Regions from separate parts of the Homo sapiens genome. Here region 1 is linked to region 2. The links come from fine-mapping of genetic effects on plasma protein levels. Region 2 holds a variant in brackets. A gene starts in the other region. All regions are shown on one strand. Distances are between the middles of the regions.

Region 1 (8,282 bases), 7.9 Mb after region 2:
GGCCTCAGGAAACTTACAGTCATAGTGGAAGGCGAAGGGGAAGCAAGCACAGCTGACCATTGCAGATCAGGAGAGAGCGTGCAGGGGGAGGTGCTACACGCTTTTAAACCATCAGATCTTGTGAGAACTCACTCACTATCACGAGAACAGCCAGGGGGAAATCCACCCCCACGATCCAATCACCTTCCACCAGGTCCCTCCCCCAACACTGGGAATTACAATTCAACATGAGTTTTGGGTGGGGACACAGAGCTAAACCATATCAGGCAGCTTTCTAAACATTCCTGTCTTCAGTTTCTTCATCTGTGAAATGGAGTTAGTGAGACTCCCTACCTCATAGGGTGATTGTGAGGTCTGTTGAAGCGCATAGCACAAGGCCTGGTAGGCAGTAAGAGCTCAATAAGTGTTACCCTAAAGGGAAGAAAATCCTGACATATGCCGCAATATGACTGAACCTGGAAGACATGATGCTAAGTGACTAAGCCAATCGCAAAAAGACAAATTTGGCGCTAATCCACTTACATAAGGTACTGACAGTAGTTAAATTCATAGAGACACAAAGTAGAATGGTGGTGGCTACGGGCAGAGGGTAGGGGTAATTAGGAATTATTATTAAATGGGTACATAGTTTTCATTGCAGAAGATAAAAAAAGTTTTGAAGATGGATAGTAGTGATGATTATATAACAATGTGAATGTACTTAAAGGCACTGAACTGTATGCTTAAAATGGTTTAAATGATGAATTTTATATTATGTATATTTTACTACAATAAATAAGTAAATAAATATGGCCATAATAATGAGGCTGTGTCAGCCCATGGAGGAACTGGCATTCCATTTTTTTGAACTTGAGAATTTGAGACTAGATAGAGTACTCTCAGCATTTTGGAAATGCCTGTTGGTAATGTATTTGGTAGAAGACTATTTTAAGACTGTAATGCTAACAAGTAAATGTCCTAAGAATAAAAGGTAACCCAGCTAAGTACTGATTTTTTTCCTTACATATTCTTCATTTTCTCCCCTTAAAAAAATATGCCCTAAAAAAAAAATACAGCAATAACAACCACTAAAATGTCAGGAAGACTATTCCCCCGCACTATAATATCAAATGAGTGGCAAGTTTTGTGGGGAAAAGTCATGCCCACATCTTAGCAGATCATTTTTAAGCTATGGGGATGCTGCCTGCACCTCTTCTATTTCAATTCTAGCAAATGTTCATGAGATATCATTTCTGCTTATTTTATAAGTGTATATTCTGTATCTATACCATCATGTGTGGAAATCTGGGACAACAATTTTTCTGAATAATCTAATATTTACCACTGAAAGAAACTAAAAATATCAAGCCCAATGTGACAAAGGTTGAGAAGCCAGTCCCAAAAGACTCTAATGGCTGGAATAAGGAAAAGAATAGAGAAGAGCCAGCTACGATCTGGAGTGCGGGAGCCCCTTAGGGTTCGGGGTCAGGGAGAGAAGGTGAGCAGGATCGCATGAGCCTCAGGGGCTGGGGCTGCCAGGAAGTACAAAGCCTAAATCCTCCGACTTCTCTTCTTATTCCAGACTTGCTTGGAAAAAGCTGTTGATGATGATGATGATGATGATGGTGGTGGTGGTGGTTGTGATGATGGTGGTGGGATGGATGCTGATGATGATGGTGATACGTAACATTCCACTCAGCATCACTCACTGAGTATTCTCAATGATAAAAAAAAAAACACTAGTGAGTAATGAATAAAATGCTTGCCATAATTTCCTCTTTTATAAATGGTAGGGTTTTACTAAAAATAAGAATCTGCTATGAATTCAGAAAAAAAAAATTGAAACTGAAGCTTTAAGAGAGTTTCCTTAAACGTGCCCTTCAATTTCTATGTCTTTGGTGACACAGCACTTTCCCGTTACTGTATGTCATTATTCCACACAGACCCGTGGAGGCTTGTGAGTGTTTCATTAACTGTCTCCATGTTCTTTATTATAACATTTCCCTCCTACTTTGCCACTAGTACAGTGTTAAAGTAATAAAACAGCACTTTTCAAGTGTTCCACTAGTTCTCACTAGACTCCACTCCCTGGCCCAGTTCTGCTATAAGAAGGCTTTTCTATATCATGTTTCTATGGCCCTTTGCTTCCAAAAAGGATCACAACGTTCTCTACACATATTACATATAGTATTCATTGTTGCCACACTCCTATGAGGTGGGTATTTTTAGCTTCTTTTACAAACACAGAAAACAGCACACAGGAGAGAATGTACTTACTCAGGCACACCAAATTGTGGGGGCTAGGGGGAAGGAAGAAAATTAACCATCCTTGCACTTTGAGCCAGATCAGTTACTAGGGGCTGACATTCCATATCTTATTTTAATTCTCACAACAATTCCATAAGATAGCTCCATTTTACAGATGTGAAACCAAAATCCAGAGAGGTTAAGAAACTCACCCAAGGTTCCCATGCCAGACCTGGGATTCACATCCAGTGCTCCCGATTACACAGGGAATCTCCTTGCTCCACAGCTCTCTTTGTTGCTTGAGATACACAGGAATCCCTTTCACGGGGGCCCGCATGGAAACAGTCTTCATTTTAATTGCCTGCAAGATTAAATATCAAGCAACAGTGAGATGTAGTTCTGAAACTCAACGATGTTTGGCCATACCGGTAGGAGCAGAATATCCAAATGGTTAGAGAAAAGAGTTGTCCTGGCTCCCCTCTAATCAGTCCACACCTGGGCTTGTGCATCTAATGCCGGGCATTGCATTTTTGAGGGGCATCCACAAACAAGGTTCGCAGAGAGTGAGGAATCCAGAAGCAAACTCCAGAAGAACACTCCCTTGGGAAACAGTCAAAGACCCTGTGAGGAGAGACATGAAGGGTGATGTGAGAACCCTCCTGCACTAACTGGAGGCTGCCCCTGTTGAAATGGGGGCAGACTGTGTTGCTCTAGAGAGCAGAATTGGGCCACTCACTTGTAAAAGAGTTTGGAATGAATGCTTCAGAGGAATTCTGCAAGCACCTTATATTGGGACTTAGCAAGGTACCTTCATGGTGTCCCCATGTATGGGACAGAAATAAGCACTCCATGGTAATACAGTCAGATGGATGGGGGGACTGGCCATGCTCTATGAGTTAGTTTAATGGAGTGTAGAAGCCAGCCTCCAAGATGCCCCCAGTGATCCCCATCCCCTGGTATTCACATCCTGTATGACCCTCCCACACTAGTTCAGGGCTGGCCCTGTGTGGGACTTCCAAAGCTATGACACAGAAGCACTGCACTCCCTGTGTCACTCACTGTGGTGGAAGCCAGCTGCCATGTCATGAGGACACTCAAGCAGCTCCATCGGGAGGCCCTATGGAGATGAAATGAGGTCACTGGCCAGCAGCCAGCACCAATTCACCAATCACGTGAGCGACCCACCTTGGACATGGATCCTCAAGCCCCAGTCAAGCTTTCAGCTAACTGCAGCTGTAACTGACATCTGACTACAACTTCAAGAGCTAGTCCAGGCCAGAACTGCCTGGCGAAGTTTCTCCCAAATTCCCGATCCATAGAAACCATGAGAGATATTAAATAACTATTGTTTTAAGACACTCAGTTTTGAGGTGATTTGTTACACAGCCATTATAACTGGAATATCGGATTATGTCGTTCATTCCAGGGGGGCTGTCTCTAGTGCTCTGCTCTAGAACTCAGCCCTAATCTCCGTCCCAGGCAATATTTTTATGAGCAGCCTGAATGAAAACATAGAAGTGGCACACTAGTTAGCTTTGTAGAATGTCTGCTGCTAAGAGGAATGGCAAACACACAGAATAATAGAGTCAGAATCCAAGATGATCTGAAGTAGTAAACTGAATTAGTTAGTGTAATGTTTAAAAGAAGCAAAAATGAAGCCCCACACTTGGATTGGAAAAACCCATTGTACCAGGATAAGCCAAAGGAGATGCTAGGTGGCAGAAGCACTGTGAAAAGGAAGTCTGAGCTGGCTGCAGGCTCCAAATGAGTCATGATGAGGCTGTCATAAAAGCACATAAATGTTGGCTGCATTACCAGAAGCACAGGACCCAGGTTATTGAGGTGAGCTCTCCTCTGGACCCAATCCAAAAGGGAGAAGGGAGAGACTTGAGATCACTGATTCCAAACAGAAAGGTTTATCACGTGGCAGGAGGTCCTGGGACAGGTTAGGGTTGGGGGGATGGAAATGGGCCTGTCTTGTTCACTGCTGAATCCACAGTATTGGGCATGAGCTTCTGTGAAAGCTGAAAGCTGCCTAAATACAAGAACCACGTGAAAAAAATGGATGTGGCCTCAGAAGGGAGTCAAACTCATGGCCACATCCAAGCAGAGTCTGATGTCCTACTTGAGGGAAACATCATGGACAGGACTGACATACTCTATGGAGGGGTGTCCTTAAAGTTCTCCAAGAGCTCTTCCCAGCTCTGAGATTCTCTTATTCTGTGATTTGTGATTGAATGAGTAGAACCTGCTGAATGATGTCAGCACAGTGCTTCTCAAACTTCAGCAGGCATATACAACACGGGAGGGATCTTGTTAAAATGCAGATTGTGAGTCAGTAGGTCTGGGGAACCTGGCATTCTGCATTTTGAATAAGCTTCCAGGTGACACTGCCAGTCTATAGAACATACTCTGAGCAGCAAGAGGTTAGAAATTGCCAGTTTACAGCAGACTGCATCGGGCAGCCTGGAAAAGGCATTAGGCAACTGTAAAGTATTCTAGCAGAAGAGGAGATGACCAGCTTCAGAAATATTACACTGGAACAGAGCTCCTGAGTTGGACAGGAAGAGCCTGTGTATGCCACCAAGGGCCTTCTGACACGCATGTCCTTTGACTCTCTGAATACTGTCTTTAAAGTGTCCAAATGCGTTGCCATTATCCTGGGTTTTTTGTATCCTTTAGGGCTAGGGAGTGTGAATTCATACCAGCCTGTACTCCAATCCCATTCACTACCTTGATGGCCTCTGAGTCTTGGTTTCTTAGTGTGTAAATGGGAATGGCATCCATCTGAGAGGCTGCTGTACCAAGCAGCATCTGACACATAATAGGTGCCCAATATATGTTTCTTAGACTCATTACAAAACCAGATGATCAATAAACATTTGTTCCCTTCAATACAAAGATAAATCGCCTAATTAATATTTGCCCTTGACTTGTTCTTCATTAACCCCACCTGCCCTAGGATGAATGTTGACATGAACCCATTTTACAAATGAGAGCAATTTGTTCTCCCACAAGGCATCAGGTAAACACAGGCATGAGAATCCATGACCTCGTTGGAATTTCAGGGACTGTTTTTTTCCCAGAGGGTCATTTCTCCCTGTTCCAGGCATTGAGGCCAGTAACTATTAAGATTTCATCTCTTTTTTTTTTTTTGAGACGGAGTCTTGCTCTGTCGCCCAGCCTGGAGTGCAGTGGCGCCGTCTCAGCTCACTGCAAGCTCCGCCTCCCGGGTTCACGCCATTCTCCTGCCTCAGCCTCCTGAGTAGCTGGGACTACAGGCGCCCGCCGCCACGCCCGGCTAATTTTTTTGTATTTTTAGTAGAGATGGGGTTTCACCGTGTTAGCCAGGATGGTCTCCATCTCCTGACCTCGTGATCCGCCCGCCTCGGCCTCCCAAAGTGCTGGGATTACAGGCGTGAGCCACTGCGCCCGGCCTCATCTCATTTCTTTATCTGTGAGAGAAGCCACTATCACCCCCTAAGGGGCTTCGGTCACCAGCATTTTGTCTGTGTCCTAAATGCTTCAAGACTTACAGACCTGACTCAATACGCTCAGGTAGAAAAAGGGTGAAATCAAGAATGGCCAACCACTGGAACACTTTAGCCATTGCTCTGAGAGGTGGGTGGATAGAGTGGGCACTATGCTCCCTCCGACGGGGCTTCACTGCCCTGGACAGGGGAGAGACAGGCGGCTCACAGAGCATGTGCTGGGCCAGGGCCAGTCCCGCCCCCAGGCAGAGATGGCCAGTAAAATAACCACATAATTCCAGTGGAGTCGCCCTGGGGAAACCGAGGCACTTCAGTTCCTTTTCATCAAGGAACTGATTAAAGTGTGGTCTATTATCTCTGTAGTGGGGAGTCCCGAAAGATTCCACTTCTTCCTCTTCTTGCCCAATGAGAGGGTCAGGAAGCTTCCACCACCATCCTGACTGTGGCCACCACATCCTGGTGTGAAGCACCACCAGCTTCCTCCACAAGAACTCTGAAGGTCACCAGCCAGCTTGAGTCCTCCGAAGGTGCTGTGGCTCAACCAGCAGCCTGTGTAGCAGAGAGCACAAGACCTGGGACTCGAACTCAGTCCCACCTTCAAGAGGGATCTCCACCACTTTCTGAGCCTCAGTTTTCACATCTTTGGTTAGGGGCAGGTGGGAAGTTGCCATATTTACCTTGTTGGGCTCTTTGGAAAAATTAAATGAAATGTTAATGTATGTTACACAACGGGCTCATAGGAGGGATTCAAAAGCTGCTAGTTCTTTTTCTCCTTTTCCTGAAAACGGTATTAAAGAGTACTGTAGAGACACTGGAGAATTCCTGCTTCATATGAGATGTCCTTGGTCTCTCCCGGGGAATTTGAAGACCCAGAGACTCGCAGCTCCCCGTGAGCCTCCCCGCTGACGCCTTACCTCCCCCTCTCCACCATCCCCTGCCATCCCGGTGTACGCCACCCCCAAAAAAACTTTCAGCCAGCTCCTCGGTGAGGGTCGTTCCAAATCGTGGCCGACAGTAGCGGGCTGCACCCTCCTTAGATCGCGTCGTGGCCAGCCTCAGCTGCAGAACCCCGCCGGGCGCCCGGGAGCCCTGTCCCGCCGCGGCGGCCTCAGAGTCCGGGCACTTGGGGATTCTCTGAGGGTGCAGCCCTCCTGGGCCCCTCCGACTGCGGAGCTGCCGACCGCAATGCAGATGCGGGCCCTCCAGCCCTTCTCGCGCCGCCTTCCTCCCGCCAGCCCCGGAGCTGCCGGGTCCGCGCCGCCCCGGGGAGCGCTCCTCTCCCGCCCTGAGCGCAGGCCGGCTTCCCCATCGGCGCGCCGGTCCGGAGCCAGGGTCCAGCGCGCTCCAGACGCCTCTGCCTTCCCCTCCCCCTGTCGGCCGCCCCTCGGTCCCTGGGGGTGGGGTTTCCCTTTGCGCTCGCCCCCTCCCGCCCCCACCCCTCACGGGCCCTCCCCTCCCCCGCCCGTCCCTATGTATGTGTCACAGCGCGCCATGCCCGCCCGCCCGCCCACCTACCTCCCCGCCGCTCCAGAGGGGGCTCGCAGAGCTGAGGACGCGCGCAGCGCTGCTCAAGGTCTCTCTCTCTCAGCACCCTCGCCGGCCGGCGTCTGACGCGGGTGCCAGGGTCTCCGGGCACCTTTCAGTGTCCATTCCCTCAGCCAGCCAGGACTCCGCAACCCAGCAGTTGCCGCTGCGGCCACAGCCCGAGGGGACCTGCGGACAGGACGCCGGCAGGAGGAGGGGTGCGCAGCGCCCGCGCAGAGCGTCTCCCTCGCTACGCAGCGAGACCCGGGCCTCCCGGCCCCAGGAGCCCCCAGCTGCCTCGCCAGGTGTGTGGGACTGAAGTTCTTGGAGAAGGGAGTCCAACTCTTCAAGGTAACTGTCTCCTTCCCTCCAGAGCGAGGCTCTCCCAGGGCGCCCGGCGAGCCAGGAACGGGACTGAGACTGCACGCCCCGGGGCTGGGGGCTGCACTGCCTTGGTCTCCGCCCTAGAGCTATGTGTGCCGGGGGCGCAGCACATCCACCGGCTGCGTCCGCGGTGGAGTTGAGCAAACTTTTTGGCTGTTGCAGACTCAGTGAATGGGGCAAAGGAACACGTGAGGAGGGGCACTTGTCTCCTAGTCCGCCAGGATGAAGGAACAAGGGAGCCTTTTCTCCAAACACCTAGGTGATTTTAAATCCTAGGGTCTGGAAAGACCCATGGTTGACAGAGTAGCAGCTTCAGAGTCAAGGGAATGTGGGTTCAAATCCCCGAGGTGCTACTTTTGAGCTGGAAGGTGTGCTTCACCTTCCTGAGCCTTGGCCTGCCGTCTGTCAGCTGAGAGGGAAAAGGCCTTCGCGGGGTCTGGAAGAATAAATGAAATCATATGGACACTATGTCAGGGACACAGCGGGTCCTAAGCCGAGGCTAGATAGTCCATCCTTGGCCACTTGGCTTACTCCAGGGACCAGAGTGCCTGAAGAGTCTGCCCAGGGGAGAGTGGCAGAACCTGGGACAGAGCTACTGAACTGCCAGCAGGGGAGAGGAGAGCAGTGCCCTGAACACACGGGTGTCCAACCAAGAAG
Region 2 (8,329 bases):
ACTTTGGTAATTCCCCAGTACCTTACAAGTCTCCCCACATCGCCTCCTCGGTGAGGTCTTTTCCGATCCAACCCAAAAGTTCTACCTTGGCAGGGCGCATTGGCTCACACCTGTAATTTCAGCACTTTGGGAGGCCGAGGTGGGTGGATCATGAGGTCAGGAGTTTGACATCAGCCTGGCCAATATGGTGAAACCCCATCTCTACTAAAAGTACAAAAAAATTAGCTGGGTGTGGTGGTGCACACCTGTAGTCCCAGCTACTCAGGAGGCTGAGGCAGGAGAATCGCTTGAACCCAGGAGGCGGACGTTGCAGTGAGCCGAGATTGCGCAGCTGCACTCCAGCCTGGGTGACACAGCAAGACTCCGTCTCAAAAAAATAAAAAATAAAAGTTCTACCTCTGCTAAAGCACTACTCACAATAGGTCTGGTGGACACATCTGTTGCCCCATCAAGAGTGTGGCCTTCTCAATGTTGGGGCCATGTCTAACTTCCCTTTGCATTTCTAGCACAGAACATGGCTAGTTAAGTGAGTGTACAGTTCACTCAGGAGCCACAACCTGGTGGAAAGTCTAAGCGCTTCATGTGGTACCTGCTACATAGTAGGTGCTTAGTAAACATTAATAGTTATTAAATGAAAGCAAATGTACTTCCCAGATGCTGACTCCATGAGGGGCACGACGTGAACTGGGCACCTGGCGAGATTTTGGATAATGGGATTTTGCTTAACCACATTTACTCCCTCCCTCATTCCCCCATCAGATGCTTCTTCGGCATTCTATTTTTCATATGCAGATTCAGACAGAGGACAAGGTTGACCAAATTGGGAAAAATAGTTATCCTCTAGAGATCATGACGTTTTGGGCAGAGAATTTTCTTTTGAAATGAAAGATGATGCAGAAGCTTGGAATAAGAAACTAGACTGCAGTGCTACTCTGTTTGGAACCATGTGCAAGGCTCCCACCAGCCCGAGCAGCAGCACCTCTCTGGGGGAAGCCCTTACTGGAATGGGCCACTCCCTGGGCTGGCGCTGGGCACCCAGGCAGGCATTGGTACCACTAGACCCCTCTCTAACCTCCTGGAAAGCAGCAGGGAATGAGGCAAGGTAGATCCTGTTCTACTGTGGCTGCGGGCCCTGCCTAGCCTGGCCCATGCTTCCTACCCCATCCAGCAGGCCACTACTGGCCCCAGGGTCCTGGGGAGAGAAGAGGGCAGCTGCTCACACCAGAAACATCTAGCATGGCTTCTGGGAGCTGCCTCTGCACTGCCACTCTGTGGGAGACTGTGCTGGCTGGGGCATGGGCTTATAGGCCATGAGGATGGCACACCAGGCAAAGAAGTGTTCCCAACATAGGTAGGCAGGCTTCTGGGCATCAGTGGGAAGGGGTGGGGACACAAGAAGCCCATCTCTCTGTCCCGCTCCTGTGAGCTAACTTAGATCCCCATCAGGAGGGCAAGACCTACATTTGAGTCCCCCAAGTAGGAAGGCTGAGCTCCAACAAAGGACCATTAGCTTTTGTTCTGAAATGAAACAATGCAGAAATATCCTCCTGAGAACAGATCCTGAATCTAGAGTGGAGGATGTGTTAGCAATGAGACCTGTCTCCTTAAGGGGCCTCACCCTACCAACCCTTTGGGCCTCCCTCTCCAGCCTTCCTCAAGGGCCTGAGGCAGCCCCAGCTCCCTTCCCATCTATCCTTATTTCACACAAGCCCTTCGCATCTTAAGATCTTTCCCGCTGTTCCCAGTGGGACACAAATGGGGGTAACAACAGGTTCCAGAATCCTATACAGTTTTTCCATGTCTGGACTGTGGTCTGTGGTTACAGAGTTCCTTTGAGATACAAACTGGACGCCCCATTGAGCTTCTGCCCCATTTCTATTCCCAAGGGAGGTGCTCACTTCCTCCTATCTGGCCCAGTGTGCTGAGTCTGCCACTGTGAAGGCTATTTTCCCAGCACTTTGGACTGAATACACCCCGAGGCAGGGGATAGACACTCCTTATTCCCAAGTCGAACTTTTGCAATTTGGGACCTTCAGGCTGGGTGCACACATTGCTCCAAACCTCTGTGTCTTTCAAGCACATTTCCCTTTGGTAGGTCCTCTGAGATACTTGGTAACTATTTGCTTCAATCTCCCCATTTGCAAAATAGAGGCAATAGCCCTGTGTTGCCTAACCAGAGAGAGGTGACGTGAACGTAAGAGGTCAATCTGAGCTCTTGGTACAACCCGAGCATCATGGTAACGACATGGTGTTCTCCCAGAAAGACTTCAAACCTGGCCATGCTCTTCCTGCAGCTCAGAGAAGGCTGGCTCTGGACTACACTAAGCCTGTGTCCATCAAAAGAAGACAGCAAAAGAAAGATGCGCTCCAAGAGAAATCTTCTAGCATGGGGCTTCTCGAGCTTTAATGTATACATGATCACCTGCAGATCTTGTAAAAATGCAGATTCTGATTCAGGAAGTCTGCAATGGAGGAATTCTGTGGTTCTAATGAAATCCCAGGGGATGCCAAATGGAGCTGGTCTCTAGAACCTTCAGGATCTAGAACCTTCAGGAGCTCCTGGATGGTTTTATGATTTGACAGATGCTCCCCTCCGCCTTCCCGCACCTCCTCTCTTTCTCTTCCCTTTCTCCTTCCTTCCTCCATCACCACATTTCTATCTGGTCTTACCTAACCAGGGTTGAGAACATTCAAGGGAAGAGATACATATCGAAGTCCTACTGTGTGCCGAGCCCTGGCATGGTACGCTCTGCTTACATCCTCTCCTCTGTTTGGAGAGAGACATGTAAACGCGGTGAGCCAAGTCCAGGCTTGGAGAAGGCTGTGGGCACCAACTGTGGCCAGATGTGTGGGAGGGAGCTCAGGATGTTCGTCACCACATGGAAAGAGCCCGTCAGCTCAGAACACAGGAGAGGCTGCCCTTTCCCGAATCCCTGGACAGGCCTCTGGGCACTGCTAACTCCAGTCCCACCATGCACAAACCAACATCCCTCCCCATGCCCACTTTCTCCAGTTTGCTCTCTCCCTCTGGTCTAATTGGTTTCTTCTCACACAGTTCCATAGTGCTTATGGCATCAAAGGGAAGATACGTCTCCAGAGGCCCATGGACCAGAGTGCTGGAAAAGCTTGGGGCAGACAGGGGTCTCAAGTTGAAAGGTAAGGGTTTGAACTGGGGTTTAAACTGACCCCAAAACCAGAGAAGGCAAATGCCTGGCATGGAGGGTGCTGTCATCTTTTGCTGAGTTGAGAACATGCTTTGTACTAAACGTGGGTACAACCTAAGAATCCCCCACACAACTAGTGGTCTACTGGAATGGATGGGCAAGATGCCACCTGTTTACCACCCCTGCACTGCAGCAAATTTATTATAACTTGCCACCAGCCACTGAAAGAAAATTGCTATATTTGTTGACTCATTTGCTTGGAAAGTGGCCCTTTATTCAACAAAAGTATCATAAGAAAAGTGGCTTAGTCTCACCCTCCTACCCAATTCCTGCTATTCAGACTGGCCAGGGGTCCTGCATCTTCTTCAACATTCTAGCTGATGCCTAGCGTTTGTACAGTCCTTTGCAGCTTGCAAAACTCTTATTTGTTCCAGAAAACTAAAGCCCAGAGAACCTACATGGCTTGTCCAAGGCCAGGCAGCTTCGGTGGTGAAGCCTAGCACAGGCTTGCTGGCTGTGCTGGAAGAAGCCATCCAGGAGGGACATGTCAGCATGACACCCATTATCATCACAAAAACTAGGTGCAGGGAGAGTCCTCAGAGAGGCTGTATGGGCGGCAGAGAAGCTCCACGGGCAATAATGATAATGATCATTGTGGTTGCTATTCAATGTTCAGCCTTGCACTTTGCACAACATGTTATAATTATCTCACTTACTCATTAATAACCTGTGCAGCAGGTACTATTATTTCCATTTAAGATGAGGACACCAAGAATTTAACAGCCAAGCCACTTGCTTAAGGTTAGGACTTGGATCCTAATCTTCCTAACTCAAAGCTGGGCTTCTTAGTTATACACCATCCTCACTATGGAAAACATCAAAATCAGAAACCCATCATATGGGGCAATGAGAAAAATCAGAAGCAATGCAAACCCTTCAAACCAGCCAAAGGAGGACATAAGGAAAAGAGAAGTATCCTTTCCAGCCCAGTCCTGAAATCATTTTGGAGCCTCTGTCTTTTAAATTAAGATCCCGGTTGCCAAAAGCTGATGTATGTAAGGTGACCTAAGTTGAATGGCACTTTCCCGGTGGTGATAAATGCATGTTGCCTGCCAAGATGGGCTGAGTATAGACGTGGATTCCCATGCCCCTCGGATGCTCAAGCTGTGAACTGCAAGATGGAGAGTGCTGTGTGGGTTTCAGGGGTTTAGAGTTCTAATCTGGGGTGCACCATTTACTCCACACTCTTGGTCAAATTTCTTCACCTCTCAGAACTCTTTCTAGAGCCACAGAGTGATAGAGTGGGGAAGGAGATCTTGTAGATCAATGCCATCATTTGATGGATGGGAACACTGGGCTTCAGAGAGGGGCAGGGACTTGCTGGTTGTCCTAGGGGCAGCTCAAAGGTAGGCAGGTTCCTAGGAGGTCTCCTCCCTTACAGTTTGCCCCATTTCCTGCTGTGCATGGCTCCCCTGTCTACAACAAAGCCATCACCCTGCCTAGGTGGCAGTGAGGCTCAGGTGAGACCCTGCCTGCCCCATACAAACACATGTCAGGCACCATCAGTAGCTGAGCACAGAGCTCTTCCCAAGGGGCCACAGTGCAGTGTGGCTAGGCGGTACCTGGTGGGCGTGGGGGGCTGGCGATGGGGAGCCATGGAACGGGGTGGGGCAGCCGTCCTCTCATAGGGCTTTTGCTCAGGAGACTCATCATTGCTTTTCAGAGCAAATGGCATTCGTTGGCTTCAAAGGCAGCTTCCGGCCCATCTGGGTGACACTGGACACTGAGGATCACAAAGCCAAAATCTTCCAAGTTGTGCCCATCCCTGTGG[TGAA/T]GAAGAAGAAGTTGTGAGGACAGCTGCCGCCCGGTGCCACCTCGTGGTAGACTATGACGGTGACTCTTGGCAGCAGACCAGTGGGGGATGGCTGGGTCCCCCAGCCCCTGCCAGCAGCTGCCTGGGAAGGCCGTGTTTCAGCCCTGATGGGCCAAGGGAAGGCTATCAGAGACCCTGGTGCTGCCACCTGCCCCTACTCAAGTGTCTACCTGGAGCCCCTGGGGCGGTGCTGGCCAATGCTGGAAACATTCACTTTCCTGCAGCCTCTTGGGTGCTTCTCTCCTATCTGTGCCTCTTCAGTGGGGGTTTGGGGACCATATCAGGAGACCTGGGTTGTGCTGACAGCAAAGATCCACTTTGGCAGGAGCCCTGACCCAGCTAGGAGGTAGTCTGGAGGGCTGGTCATTCACAGATCCCCATGGTCTTCAGCAGACAAGTGAGGGTGGTAAATGTAGGAGAAAGAGCCTTGGCCTTAAGGAAATCTTTACTCCTGTAAGCAAGAGCCAACCTCACAGGATTAGGAGCTGGGGTAGAACTGGCTATCCTTGGGGAAGAGGCAAGCCCTGCCTCTGGCCGTGTCCACCTTTCAGGAGACTTTGAGTGGCAGGTTTGGACTTGGACTAGATGACTCTCAAAGGCCCTTTTAGTTCTGAGATTCCAGAAATCTGCTGCATTTCACATGGTACCTGGAACCCAACAGTTCATGGATATCCACTGATATCCATGATGCTGGGTGCCCCAGCGCACACGGGATGGAGAGGTGAGAACTAATGCCTAGCTTGAGGGGTCTGCAGTCCAGTAGGGCAGGCAGTCAGGTCCATGTGCACTGCAATGCCAGGTGGAGAAATCACAGAGAGGTAAAATGGAGGCCAGTGCCATTTCAGAGGGGAGGCTCAGGAAGGCTTCTTGCTTACAGGAATGAAGGCTGGGGGCATTTTGCTGGGGGGAGATGAGGCAGCCTCTGGAATGGCTCAGGGATTCAGCCCTCCCTGCCGCTGCCTGCTGAAGCTGGTGACTACGGGGTCGCCCTTTGCTCACGTCTCTCTGGCCCACTCATGATGGAGAAGTGTGGTCAGAGGGGAGCAATGGGCTTTGCTGCTTATGAGCACAGAGGAATTCAGTCCCCAGGCAGCCCTGCCTCTGACTCCAAGAGGGTGAAGTCCACAGAAGTGAGCTCCTGCCTTAGGGCCTCATTTGCTCTTCATCCAGGGAACTGAGCACAGGGGGCCTCCAGGAGACCCTAGATGTGCTCGTACTCCCTCGGCCTGGGATTTCAGAGCTGGAAATATAGAAAATATCTAGCCCAAAGCCTTCATTTTAACAGATGGGGAAAGTGAGCCCCCAAGATGGGAAAGAACCACACAGCTAAGGGAGGGCCTGGGGAGCCCCACCCTAGCCCTTGCTGCCACACCACATTGCCTCAACAACCGGCCCCAGAGTGCCCAGGCACTCCTGAGGTAGCTTCTGGAAATGGGGACAAGTCCCCTCGAAGGAAAGGAAATGACTAGAGTAGAATGACAGCTAGCAGATCTCTTCCCTCCTGCTCCCAGCGCACACAAACCCGCCCTCCCCTTGGTGTTGGCGGTCCCTGTGGCCTTCACTTTGTTCACTACCTGTCAGCCCAGCCTGGGTGCACAGTAGCTGCAACTCCCCATTGGTGCTACCTGGCTCTCCTGTCTCTGCAGCTCTACAGGTGAGGCCCAGCAGAGGGAGTAGGGCTCGCCATGTTTCTGGTGAGCCAATTTGGCTGATCTTGGGTGTCTGAACAGCTATTGGGTCCACCCCAGTCCCTTTCAGCTGCTGCTTAATGCCCTGCTCTCTCCCTGGCCCACCTTATAGAGAGCCCAAAGAGCTCCTGTAAGAGGGAGAACTCTATCTGTGGTTTATAATCTTGCACGAGGCACCAGAGTCTCCCTGGGTCTTGTGATGAACTACATTTATCCCCTTTCCTGCCCCAACCACAAACTCTTTCCTTCAAAGAGGGCCTGCCTGGCTCCCTCCACCCAACTGCACCCATGAGACTCGGTCCAAGAGTCCATTCCCCAGGTGGGAGCCAACTGTCAGGGAGGTCTTTCCCACCAAACATCTTTCAGCTGCTGGGAGGTGACCATAGGGCTCTGCTTTTAAAGATATGGCTGCTTCAAAGGCCAGAGTCACAGGAAGGACTTCTTCCAGGGAGATTAGTGGTGATGGAGAGGAGAGTTAAAATGACCTCATGTCCTTCTTGTCCACGGTTTTGTTGAGTTTTCACTCTTCTAATGCAAGGGTCTCACACTGTGAACCACTTAGGATGTGATCACTTTCAGGTGGCCAGGAATGTTGAATGTCTTTGGCTCAGTTCATTTAAAAAAGATATCTATTTGAAAGTTCTCAGAGTTGTACATATGTTTCACAGTACAGGATCTGTACATAAAAGTTTCTTTCCTAAACCATTCACCAAGAGCCAATATCTAGGCATTTTCTTGGTAGCACAAATTTTCTTATTGCTTAGAAAATTGTCCTCCTTGTTATTTCTGTTTGTAAGACTTAAGTGAGTTAGGTCTTTAAGGAAAGCAACGCTCCTCTGAAATGCTTGTCTTTTTTCTGTTGCCGAAATAGCTGGTCCTTTTTCGGGAGTTAGATGTATAGAGTGTTTGTATGTAAACATTTCTTGTAGGCATCACCATGAACAAAGATATATTTTCTATTTATTTATTATATGTGCACTTCAAGAAGTCACTGTCAGAGAAATAAAGAATTGTCTTAAATGTCATGATTGGAGATGTCCTTTGCATTGCTTGGAAGGGGTGTACCTAGAGCCAAGGAAATTGGCTCTGGTTTGGAAAAATTTTGCTGTTATTATAGTAAACATACAAAGGATGTCATCATCTTGTCTGTTTGTTTCATTTTCTATTAAAATGGGCTTCATTTTATCTAGGGATAATAACTTATCTAAGGATAACCTAAGATAAACAGTTATCTAAGGATAATAAGGCTGATGAAATCACCCCATGTGTCTGCCTTACTTCCATGGCCTTATTCCCAAGAGCTAGTCATATGTCAAGATCCTACCTTGCCTTGCCCCAAGGCGGGGTGTCCATAAGAGCAGGTGGAGATGGTTCAAAGAAAGAGAAGATATCATTCATATGGCTGGCCATGTCCAGAACTTGCTGCGTCCTCCACATTTCTAAGCTGTCAGGAGGCTGTCACTTCAACTCCCCTCCCCGATGGGGAAGCCAGGCAGAAGCAGGACTCTCTTTTCCTCCCAGGCCCTGTTTGGCTGGAGGCCAAACACGTTTGACAAGAGCATGGGGGCTGAGGTGGGAAAAACAGGTCCAAATCAAACTGGCAG

Direction of the effects. Alleles are on the strand shown, and positions count from the first base shown. The strength of an association depends on the size of the effect and on how common the allele is.
With allele T in place of TGAA in region 2, the plasma level of the protein whose gene starts at base 7,219 in region 1 is higher (weak association).

The links. PIP is the chance, under the fine-mapping model, that this variant and not a neighbour inherited with it causes the effect. Protein levels are from antibody-based Olink assays in UK Biobank. Linkage for the fine-mapping came from a reference panel and not from the study's own genotypes, which makes the PIPs less certain.
Region 1: ACAN starts here. The variant in region 2 is fine-mapped to the plasma level of the ACAN protein (UK Biobank, PIP above 0.99).

Annotation. Positions count from the first base shown.
Region 1 is chr15:88,796,218-88,804,499 of GRCh38, forward strand. ACAN (aggrecan) reads left to right here and starts at 7,219. Exons shown (of 19, transcript NM_001369268.1): 1 at 7,219-7,592. LOC105370960 (a long non-coding RNA gene) reads right to left here and starts at 7,301. Exons shown (of 3, transcript XR_001751648.1): 1 at 7,233-7,301; 2 at 2,439-2,587; 3 at 245-1,687.
Region 2 is chr15:80,943,910-80,952,238 of GRCh38, forward strand. CEMIP (cell migration inducing hyaluronidase 1) reads left to right here. Exons shown (of 30, transcript NM_001293298.2): 29 at 3,056-3,156; 30 at 4,888-7,862. The coding sequence ends at 5,015. It also overlaps a transcript of MESD not described here. Among named protein-coding and RNA genes, the nearest start is that of MESD, 42 kb to the right of the region's middle. The variant TGAA/T (reference allele first, on the strand shown) is at 4,996.